3 linked regions of the Homo sapiens genome follow. The protein of the gene in region 3 binds, or shares a complex with, the protein of the main gene of each other region. Each region holds a gene or a part of one and is shown on either strand. Other genes may lie near its edges.

Evidence for each region.
Region 1: CRIPT (region 3) and SF3B2 share a complex: the UniProt entries of both Homo sapiens proteins name them as parts of the minor spliceosome.
Region 2: CRIPT (region 3) and SNRNP200 share a complex: the UniProt entries of both Homo sapiens proteins name them as parts of the minor spliceosome.

Annotation. Positions count from the first base shown.
Region 1 is NC_000011.10:66,055,292-66,058,940, forward strand, and holds part of SF3B2 (splicing factor 3B subunit 2), read left to right. Parts: coding exon 1-24; intron 25-243; coding exon 244-294; intron 295-1,546; coding exon 1,547-1,664; intron 1,665-1,974; coding exon 1,975-2,084; intron 2,085-2,762; coding exon 2,763-2,859; intron 2,860-3,022; coding exon 3,023-3,114; intron 3,115-3,538; coding exon 3,539-3,649. UniProt on the Homo sapiens protein: Component of the 17S U2 SnRNP complex of the spliceosome, a large ribonucleoprotein complex that removes introns from transcribed pre-mRNAs.
Region 2 is NC_000002.12:96,281,424-96,285,072, reverse strand, and holds part of SNRNP200 (U5 small nuclear ribonucleoprotein 200 kDa helicase), read left to right. Parts: intron 1-487; coding exon 488-715; intron 716-1,068; coding exon 1,069-1,260; intron 1,261-1,359; coding exon 1,360-1,538; intron 1,539-1,720; coding exon 1,721-1,872; intron 1,873-3,150; coding exon 3,151-3,259; intron 3,260-3,649. UniProt on the Homo sapiens protein: Catalyzes the ATP-dependent unwinding of U4/U6 RNA duplices, an essential step in the assembly of a catalytically active spliceosome. Plays a role in pre-mRNA splicing as a core component of precatalytic, catalytic and postcatalytic spliceosomal complexes.
Region 3 is NC_000002.12:46,623,715-46,627,363, forward strand, and holds part of CRIPT (cysteine-rich PDZ-binding protein), read left to right. Parts: intron 1-49; coding exon 50-153; intron 154-448; coding exon 449-513; 3' UTR 514-3,649. UniProt on the Homo sapiens protein: As a component of the minor spliceosome, involved in the splicing of U12-type introns in pre-mRNAs. Involved in the cytoskeletal anchoring of DLG4 in excitatory synapses.

The sequences.
Region 1 (3,649 bases), on a different chromosome or scaffold from region 3:
CAGCAGGAGGAGCGTGCCAAGCAGGTAGGGCAGGTGGCAGCCCTGGCCTTGGACTCATTAGGTCCCTGAAGGGGCAGTGGAGCCTTAGAGAAAGCTGGGTCCTAGAACTAAGGCTTCTGGGAAGGTCGGGACTAAAGATTGGAACATGGGCCCTTGACTGGAAGAGGATCTCAAGAAGCAAGAGTTGTGGCAGATTGGCGTGTTGGGTATTGGTGCTGGTATGAACTTGTTTTCTTTTTTAAGCAGGGAGATCATTCGCTGAAGGAACATGAGCTCTTGGAGCAGCAGAAGCGGGTAATACCCCTCCCCCTAACCTTTGACCTCGTGGTCCAGTCAGTTGGCTGTCATTTATAGTGCTTAGAGTGCACCATTCAAGTTTTCCCTGGAGGCTACTTTGTTCTCAACTAAGTTCTAGTATCTTCCAAAGCTTTCAATTTTTCTTGAAGTTCAGGAATTGACAAACTATGACCTGTGGCCTGCATGTGTATGGCCTATGAGCTAAAAATAACTTTAAAATTTTTTAAGGGTTATAAGAAAACCCAAACCAAAAATATGTACCAGAGTCTGTACAGCAACCCATAAAGCCTAAAATATTTACCTTCTGACCTATTATAAAAAGAGCCTGCTGACCTCTGCTCGCCTTACATGACATCATTCTAGATAGGACTCTGGGTAATTGAGTTATTTGTATTGGATTTAGACAGAATAGGACTGTAAGTCTGGGAATGTTATATAAGATGTTTGGCCCCAGAGGTGCATTGCATCAGTCATTACCCAGTGGGTTACTCAGGAGTATTAAAAAGTAAGTGTTAAAAAGCAACAAGTATGAGCTGGGTGCCGTGGCTCACACCTGTAATCCTAGCACTTTGGGAGGCTGAGGTGGGTGGATCGCTTGAGCTCAGGAGTTCGAGACCAGCCTGGCCAACATAATGAAACCCTGTCTCTCAGAAATACAAAAATTAGCCAGGTGTGGCGGCGCATGCCTGTAGTCCCAGCTACTTGGGAGGCTGAGGTGGGAGGATGGCTTGAGCTGGGGAGGCCGAGGTTGCAGTGAGCTGAGATCATGCCACTGTACTCCAGCCTAGGCAACAGAGCCAGACTCTGTCTCAAAAAAAAAAAAAAAAAAAAAAGCCACAAGTCTGGACCTGTGGGTAAAGTACTGTCTTTGCCCAGATTGTGCTGGATCTTGAGGGGTGGATATAAGAAAAGAGCTCAAAAGTTTCTTCTGTATAATTTAATCTTTTGGGGAAGAAAACTCTCTGAAAAGTAGAAGGCACTGTTTGGCTCAATATGAAATTCTCTGCTAGGAACCAGAAGTTTCCTGGGGTTTTCCTTGGTGTTATTTCTAGGGATTTTCCGTTGTGATGAGAGGGCTCCTCCGTTTGGATTAGTAGCCTGGAAGTGTGGGGGTGGAGGGGATGTCAGCACCCAAGTGGTTCGTGATTGTTCTCCTTGGGCCCATTACCCGGCTGAAAGAATGCATTTGCCAGGGGCTGCCTGCCAAATGCGTTTTCAGGCAGTATCTACTCCCACTTCCCTCCCGTAGGCAGCTGTGTTACTGGAGCAGGAACGACAGCAGGAGATTGCCAAGATGGGCACCCCAGTCCCTCGGCCCCCACAAGACATGGGCCAGATTGGTGTGCGCACTCCTCTGGGTCCTCGAGGTGAGACCCTGGAACCGAGGGGAAGGGCAAGGAAGGTGATTTAGACATTTTTAAAAAGACTTTTAAGGTATCTATCACATTTAAAAAGGGCATATATAGTAAATATATAGTTTAATGGTTTTTTACACACTGAACACACCTGTACAACCAGCACCTGGACCATGATCCAAAACATTACCAGCATTCCAAAAGCCACGCCACGTGCCCTCCTCCCCTGCAGGTTTACCATCACCCTTTCAGCAAGAGAGGTAATTTTTTACGTGAGTGTTTTGCCTCTTCTGACATTGGATTTCTTTTTCCCGTCTCTTAGTAGCTGCTCCAGTGGGCCCAGTGGGCCCCACTCCTACAGTTTTGCCCATGGGAGCCCCTGTTCCCCGGCCTCGTGGTCCCCCACCGCCCCCTGGAGATGAGAACAGAGAGGTGAGACTGATGATTTATTCCTAGGGATAAGAGAGTGGTAGTTTAGGATGGGACTATTTTTGGATTTTTAGAGAAAGGTTCTGTGAGAAGATGGGGGGACTTAAATTCCTGGGGGTAGTGGGGAGCCCTTCTTATTTAAACTAAGGGTATGGCAGAGGGACTGGGGAGACATTACTGAGGCAGAGTCTTGGGGTCCCTCTGAGGAACACTAAACCCCACTGAGCCCAGTTGGTGTTGCCCACTCTCTGCTGCTTACATCACCTGGGCAGCAGCCTTTCTAGTCCAAGAGGTGGAAGTTGGTGGAAAAAGGGCACTGTGGGCTGGGTGCGGTGGCTCACACCTGTAATCCCAGCACTTTGGGAGGCCGAGGCGGGCGGATCACCTGAGGTCAGGAGTTCTAGACCAGCCTCAACATGGAGAAACCCCATCTCTACTAAAAATACAAAATTGGCCAGGTGTGGTGGTGCATGCCTGTAATCCCAGCTACTCGGGAGGCTGAGGCAGGAGAATTGCTTGAACCTGGGAGGCGGAGGTTGTGGTGGGCCGAGATCGCGCCATTGCACTCCAGCCTGGGCAACAAGAGCAAAACTCCGTCTCAAAAAAAAAAAAAAGAAAGAAAGAAAAAAAAAAGAAAAAGGGCACTGTGATTTGCCTTCTCTGACTGGGTGTCTCTGGCAGATGGATGACCCCTCTGTGGGCCCCAAGATCCCCCAGGCTTTGGAGAAGATCCTGCAGCTGAAGGAGAGCCGCCAGGAAGAGATGAATTCTCAGCAGGGTGAGTGCCAGGCGTTCTGATGCTGTAGCCACAGAACCTGGAGAGGCTGAGCTGAGTCCTCATCCCTCTGTCCCTTTCCCTGGCTCTTGGTAAAGGCAGGTTACTGTGAACGAGTGCAGGGCAGTGGCACCGTGAAGACTCATCACCACCTTCTTCCTTACAGAGGAAGAGGAAATGGAAACAGATGCTCGCTCGTCCCTGGGCCAGTCAGCGTCAGAGACTGAGGAGGACACAGTGTCCGTATCTAAAAAGGAGGTAGGGATTGGAGCTGAGTGTGGAAGGAAAGCCAGGAGATGGGACTTGGGTACGGAAATAACACAATTTGTAAGTGTTCAGTAAGTAATAGCTTCTATTTTGTGCCAATTTCCGCCCTCAGCATCTTATAGATATTTTTCATTTAATTGCTTTGAGTTCCAAGTACTATACGTGCCTACATTTTACAGCTGAAAAAGCAGAGGTTCTGAGACGCACAGTAATTTACCCAAAGGCATACAGCTTGTGAGTGGCAGAACTTTGGAGTCTGACTCCAAGGCCCCTTCGCAGCTACTTCATGAGATGGCCTCCTTGGGAAAAGCCTGACTGTTGAACTGTGGGGGAGAATGGGGGAGGAGTTTAGGGGTTGGGGTGCTGGCACAGTGCTTGGATTCCCTGACCCAGCTGGTTTTCCTCCTCTTGACAGAAAAACCGGAAGCGTAGGAACCGAAAGAAGAAGAAAAAGCCCCAGCGGGTGCGAGGGGTGTCCTCTGAGAGCTCTGGGGACCGGGAGAAAGACTCAACCCGGTCCCGTGGC
Region 2 (3,649 bases), about 50 Mb from region 3:
GTGTATTAAAGAAAAGCTGCCCCAGCCAAGCGTGGTGGCTCACGCCTGTAATCCCAGCACTTTGGGAGGCCGAGGCGGGCAGATCTCCGGAGATCAGGAGTTCGAGACCAGCCTGGCCAACATGGTGAAACCCTGTCTCTACTAAAAATACAGAAATTAGCTGGGCGTGGTGGTGTGCGCCTGTAATCCCAGCTACTTGGAAGGCTGAGGCAGGAGAATCGCTTGAACCCGGGAGGCGGAGGTTGCAGTGAGCCAAGTTCGCACCACTGCACTCCAGCCTGGGCAACAAGAGCGAGACTTCATCTCAAAAGAAAAAAAAAAAAGAAAAAGCTGCCCCATCGCATCGCATAGAGGCTGCTATGGGATTAGAACGTAGCTTGAGATCTGCAGGTCAACAGGTCTGTTTGGCATCTCAGGTTTTCCTCACATAAGTGAAAGATGCCTGGTATGGCCTAGTGTTGTTCTGCCTCCCTCCTCTGCCCGCCAGGTATACATGGACTGGTACGAGAAGTTCCAGGACAGGCTCAACAAGAAGGTGGTACTCCTGACAGGCGAGACCAGCACAGACCTGAAGCTGCTGGGCAAAGGGAACATTATCATCAGCACCCCTGAGAAGTGGGACATACTTTCCCGGCGATGGAAGCAGCGCAAGAACGTGCAGAACATCAACCTCTTCGTGGTGGATGAGGTCCACCTTATCGGGGGCGAGAATGGGGTATGGCGTGACCTTGCAGCACAGATGAGGGACTGGGACTGACCAAGTGGCCTTGGCATTGGACCTAATGTTTGGGTCTGAGGACGGAGGCTCGGGGCTTCTCCCCAGAGGATTCTACCTGCTGCCCTATTCCAAAGGGACAATGTTAACTTTTTTGGTAGTACTTTAGGAAAACAGTATTGTTTAGTGGAGGTTGGCTGCCGTGGAGGAGGTAGAACCAAACACATGAGAGCTCCTAGTTAGAAGGAAGAATGAGGTCATTTTGAGGCTGTTGGGCTGTTCACAAAGGGGACCTCCAGGCAGAGGATGGGAGCCTTGGCCTGCAGTGACCCTCCCTCCCTCCCTCTTTCCAGCCTGTCTTAGAAGTGATCTGCTCCCGAATGCGCTACATCTCCTCCCAGATTGAGCGGCCCATTCGCATTGTGGCACTCAGCTCTTCGCTCTCCAATGCCAAGGATGTGGCCCACTGGCTGGGCTGCAGTGCCACCTCCACCTTCAACTTCCATCCCAATGTGCGTCCCGTCCCCTTGGAGCTGCACATCCAGGTAGGACCCACTCTCCTCATCCGTCTGTGGGGTGTCACATAGATCCTGAGTGACCCAGGTCTGATAACCTTGGTGTCTTTTCTTCTCCCCGGTCGCCAGGGCTTCAACATCAGCCATACACAAACCCGCCTGCTCTCCATGGCCAAGCCTGTGTACCATGCTATCACCAAGCACTCGCCCAAGAAGCCTGTCATTGTCTTTGTGCCGTCTCGCAAGCAGACCCGCCTCACTGCCATTGACATCCTCACCACCTGTGCAGCAGACATCCAACGGCAGAGGTAGGTGGGGCCTGGCGTCTGGGGGTTGGGGTTAGGTTAAGTGAGGCTGGCCTACTCCAAGGGTGTCCTCTTTATGAGGGTGGGGTTAGCCCATGTTGCTTGGGGCCAGGTTCTGCACAGCTGGCAAAGTGTCTGCCAGGAATTGAACTACTCTGAGCTGAGCCAGTGCCTGTACCGCACAGGTTCTTGCACTGCACCGAGAAGGATCTGATTCCGTACCTGGAGAAGCTAAGTGACAGCACGCTCAAGGAAACGCTGCTAAATGGGGTGGGCTACCTGCATGAGGGGCTCAGCCCCATGGAGCGACGCCTGGTGGAGCAGCTCTTCAGCTCAGGTAAGTCAGGCCACGGAAGGGGAGCATAGCAAGGGTATCACCAAGTGGTGGTGTTAAACTTGAGGGGTGCGGGTGGCAGTGTTTTCTCTACAGCATACCAGAGATTTTCAAAATACTGTTTAGGACTCTTGGCTGTTAACTCATTTGATCCTCCCAAGAACCTCGTGAGGCAGGTGAGACAAACACTATCCCTACTTGCCAGGTGAGAAAACAGGCAGACACATCAGGTTGTGCTATTTCAGAACCTGGTTTTCTAGAGTCCAGGACCTTTGGCCACCAGACCGCTGATTCTCCGTGGATACCAGACTCCCCAAGTGTATTAGTCCGTTCTTGTATTGCTATAAAGAAATACCTGATACTGGGTCATTTATAAAGAAAGGAGGTTTAATTGACTCAGTTCTGCAGGCTGTACATGAAACATGGTGTTATCTGCTTCTGGGAAGGCCTCAGGGAAGGCAAAGGGGAAGCAGGCATCTTATATGGCAGGAGTCAGGACCGAGAGAGTGAGTGGGGAGGTGCTACACACTTTTGAACAACCAGATCTCGTGAGAACTCATTCACTAGACAGTACCAAGGGTGGGTGGTGCTAAACCATTCATGAGAACTCTGCCTCCATTAGCCAGTCATCTCCCACCAGGCCCTTCCTCCAACACTGGAGACTACAGGTCGACGAGATTTGGTGGAGACACAGATCCAAACCGTCTCACCAAGATAGTTAGACTTTAGAGATTAGCACAGAGGAGAGCTCTGATTCTCCCTTGAGCTCACTCTTGCTGGCCACTGTCTCTTGTTGCCCTGTGGCATTTTGTGCAAAGATTTACGTTTTAATACTGTTTATTGGAGCCTCATTGGAGATTCTTCTGCCAGAATCACTTCCTGTCACTCTTTGGCCCTTGAATCTGCCTGTTTGGGGCATGCTTAGAGTGATCTCTGTTTTGCTGGCATGGCTGAGCCAGCCCGTGGCTGCATGAGTGTTAGCACTTTCTGGTCAGAGGAGCAGTCCATCAGCTGTAGTTTTGCCTTGGTGTTCCTGGGCTTTGGGTTCTGTTCTATGATGACTTGTTTTCTCCTGGATAGTCCCAGAGCAAGGCACCAGCAGCGTGGAGCTACCTCATAGCAATGTGTTAGCTCTCATTCATGTTAGACCTTGTTCCTAGCCAGCCTTGCTGTGAGTTCTGAAACATAGCACAGGGTAAGCCACGGCCTGCCCATGAGGCAGTGAGCCTACTTCACCCGGAGACCCCTGCCCTCAGCCTTCCTCTCCCCTCTACTGCTCAGGGGCTATCCAGGTGGTGGTGGCTTCTCGGAGTCTCTGCTGGGGCATGAACGTGGCTGCCCACCTGGTAATCATCATGGATACCCAGTACTACAATGGCAAGATCCACGCGTGAGTACAACTGGTGCTCTGTGTTAGCACAGACCTCCTTCCTAAAATGAATGTGAATCTGCAGATACACAGAAAGTAAGCTAGGATGAAGAAAAGGTGTTAGGGAAGTTAACAGCTGAGATGCCACCAGAGCCAAGTGTTTGAGAGTTTTGTGTCTCAATACCTAGGCTCACATTTGCTTTTTAGTCATTGTGCTTCCTTATTCAGCAGCTGGGAGAGGTAGGAAATTAGAGCCAGGAGGAATGTTTGACGTTACGTCATTAATCTCAGACATCTTGTAGATTAGGAAAAGTGACTTGGTCGAGGTCATACACCTATATAGTGACAAGTAAGAAGCTAGAGGAGTGCCGAGCGCAGTGGCTCATGCCTGTAATCCCAGCACTTTGGGAG
Region 3 (3,649 bases):
GTGTTTCTAGTGTAATATACAATTTTCTCTCTTTAAAAAAAATTTCTAGATTTGATCCATATGGAAAGAATAAGTTCTCCACTTGTAGAATTTGTAAAAGTTCTGTGCACCAACCAGGTTCTCATTACTGCCAGGGCTGTGCCTACAAAAAAGGTAAGTTTCTTTTAATACCGTTTTCTATTCATAAAACCGACTTCATTTGCTGCTAATTTGGTTAACAGAAAAGATGTAGCCTGTCATAAATTCTGTTAGCCAAACACTCTCTTTATCCTAAGGCAAAATAGAACCTAAAACCTGTTTATAATTAAAATTATATATATATATATATTTTTTTTTTCTTTTCTTTTCTTTCCTGATGCTGTTAAATTATGTTTTAAGCTTCAGGATTGACTTAAACCAAACAGTTGGTATTATGATTTGATTGATCACATATCTTCTTTTGTTTCAGGCATCTGTGCGATGTGTGGAAAAAAGGTTTTGGATACCAAAAACTACAAGCAAACATCTGTCTAGATGTATTGATGGAATTTCTGGCTTTCTAAATGATTTTACTTTCTGCCTTGAATTTTCAAGGCATAGATGTCAACTTACAGAATAACATGTTTTAAGATAATTAAGTTTAAACCAGAGAATTTGATTGTTACTCATTTTGCTCTCATGTTCTAAACAGCAACAGTGTAACTAGTCTTTTGTTGTAAATGGTTATTTTCCTTATAAGAATTTTAAGAACTAAGTGGCAAATTCCATGAAAATATTTCTCAGTTCTGTATGCACTTTTATTTAACATTATTCATATAATTCTCCCCCCACCACTTTATTTATAGATACTGCAAAAGTGAGAAGGAGATAATAGATACTTTGCTCTGAATTTGGCATCCAGAGTTAACATTTCTCCCCTCACTCCCTTGCTGGTGTCATAGTTATTAGAATCAGCAGCCTCTTAACTAATTGCGGTTTCATAGGATATATAAATGTTTCAAGCCATTATTGCTGAATGGTTCTTTAGTTATTAACCTAGACCCAAATCAAAGACCAGTTGGATTTATGATATTTTTTATTTGTTCTTGCAGCCAAAGTGCCAGTTTCTTTAATATGTGACCAAGAACACAAGGAGCATCCATATGGCCAAATAAATACACTGAATTTTAGAAAAACATATTACTTTGAATTCAAATTGTCATGAAAACCAGAACAGTGTTTGTCCATGTTGCATGTAATGAAAATAAATCCCTGCTCTGAGAAAAGCTCTTTGAAGCAAAAACCAAACTTTTTTTTTTTTTTTTTTACCTCCTGTCTTGCCCCCTAAAAGAAATAAATAGAGCAAACATCTTGACTCTCCCTTTTTAAAATTTGTTTGTTTTTTTTTTTTTTTTTTGGATACAAGAGCTCACTCTGTTGCCCAGGGTGGAGTGCAGAGGTATCATCAGGCTCTCTGCAGCCTCCATCTGCTGGGCTCAAGCAATTCTTCCCCCTCAGCCTCCTAAGTAGCTGGGGACTACAGGCGTGTGCCACTGTGCTCAGCTAGTTTTTATTTTTAGTAGAGATGAGGACTCACTATGTTGCCCAAGCTGTTCTCGAACTTCTGATCTCAAGCAATCCTCTGGCCTCAGCCTTCCGAAGTGCTGGGATACAGGTGTGAGCCACAGAACTTGGCCTCTCTCTTTTTTTTTTTTTTTTTTTTTTTTTTTTAACACTACAGGTTTCAAATGAATACTTTTCTTATGTTGCCTTCAGAGGTTCAGGACTTCTGCTTTTAAAACCTGCAGCCTACCGTGGGAAACCAAAAAAGCATTCCCTATTTCCAACTGCAGTATGTATAAATACATATCACTACAAAATGTATAGAAAGTGTGATGAGATACATGAATGGCATTTTTATTGGTCATAACATTTTGATGAAAAGCATTTAAAGTTTTAACTTTATAAGGCTTTTCAAAATGTGTTTTTCTGAGATACATTGTTATTTATTCATATCCAGAAAAATTACAAGGATAATACAGAATATAATAAATAATTTATCTGAGAGCAGGAAGTATCCTCTCATGCTTAATCAGTTTGGGGTTTTTAATTATAACACAGGAAACTCATAACAGGACCTGGTCAGAGAGCATCCCAGATCCATTAAAGATTGGATTCATTGACTTGGAGAAAAGTACATTTCTCAGGGATCAGCTAGAATCTGGACTTGCCTAACTCACATTTCATTTTTTTTGTTGTTGTTGTTGTTTTTATAATTTCAACTTTTATTTTAGATGTAGGGGTACATGTGCAGGTGAGTTATATGGGTATATTTTGTGATGCTGAGGTTTGGGGTACAAATGATCCTGTCACCCAGGTAGTGAGCATAGAGTCCAACAGGTGGTTTTTCACCCCTTCCCTCCCCTCTTCCCTCCAGTAGTCCCCTATGTCTGTTCTCATTTTTATGTCCATGTGTACCCATTGCTTAGTTCCCACTGATAAGTGAGAACATGCGGTCTTTGGTTTTCTGTTCCTGTGTATATTCACTATAATGACCTCCAGCTGCATCCATGTTGCTGCAAAAGACATGATTTTCATTCTTTTTTATGGCTGCATAGTATTCTGTGGTGTATATGTACCAATTTTCTTTATCCAGTCCACTATTAATGAGCATCTAGGTTGATTCTGTGTCTTTGCTGTTGTGAATAGTGCTGTGATGAATATGTGAGTGTATGTGTCTTTTTGGTAGAACAATTTATTTTCATTTGGATTTATATCCAGTCATGGGATTGCTGGTTCAAATGGTAGTTCTGTTTTAACTTCTTTGAGAAATCTCCAAACTGCTTTCACAGTGGCTGAACTAATTTGCATTTCCATCAGTGTAGGCGCATTCTACACTGCACTGGCTTCTACAGTGTTGAAGCATTCCGTTTTTCCCACAGCCTCACCAGCATCTGTTATTTTTTTGACTTTTTGATAATAGCCATTCTGACTGGTGTGAGATTGTAACTCATTGTGGTTTTGATTTGCATTTATCTGATTAGTAATGTTGAGCATTTTTTCATGTTTGTTAACCGCTTGTATGTTGTCTTTTGAGAAGTGTCTGTTCAAGTCTTTTGGCATTTTTTTAATGGGTTTTTGTTTGTGTGTGTGTATTTTTGTTTTTGTTTTTGTTTTGAGATGGAGTTTCACTGTTGTCACCCAGGCTAGAGTGCAATGGCACCATCTCAGCTCACTGCAACCTCCACCTCCCGGGTTCAAGCGATTCTCCTGCCCCAGCCTCCTGAGTTGCTGGGATTACAGGTGCCTGCCACCAAGCGTGGCTAATTTTGGTACTTTTAGTAGAGACAGGGTTTCACCATGTTGGCCAGCCTGGTCTCGAATTCCTGACCTCAGGTGATCCACCCATCTCAGCCTCCCAAAGTGCTGGGATTACAGGAGTGAGCCACCACACCTGGCCACGAGTTACTTGGTTTTCGTTTTCTGAATTGTTTTAGTTCCTTATAGATTTTGGACATTAGACCTTTTTCAGATGCACAGTTTGTGAATATTCTCTCCCATTCTGTAGGTTGTCTGTTTACTGTATTGATAGTTCCTTTTGCGGTGCAGAAGCTCTTTAGTTTGATTAGGTTCCACTTGTCAATTTTTGTTTTTGTTGCAATTGCTTTTGAGGACTTAGCCGTAAGTTCTT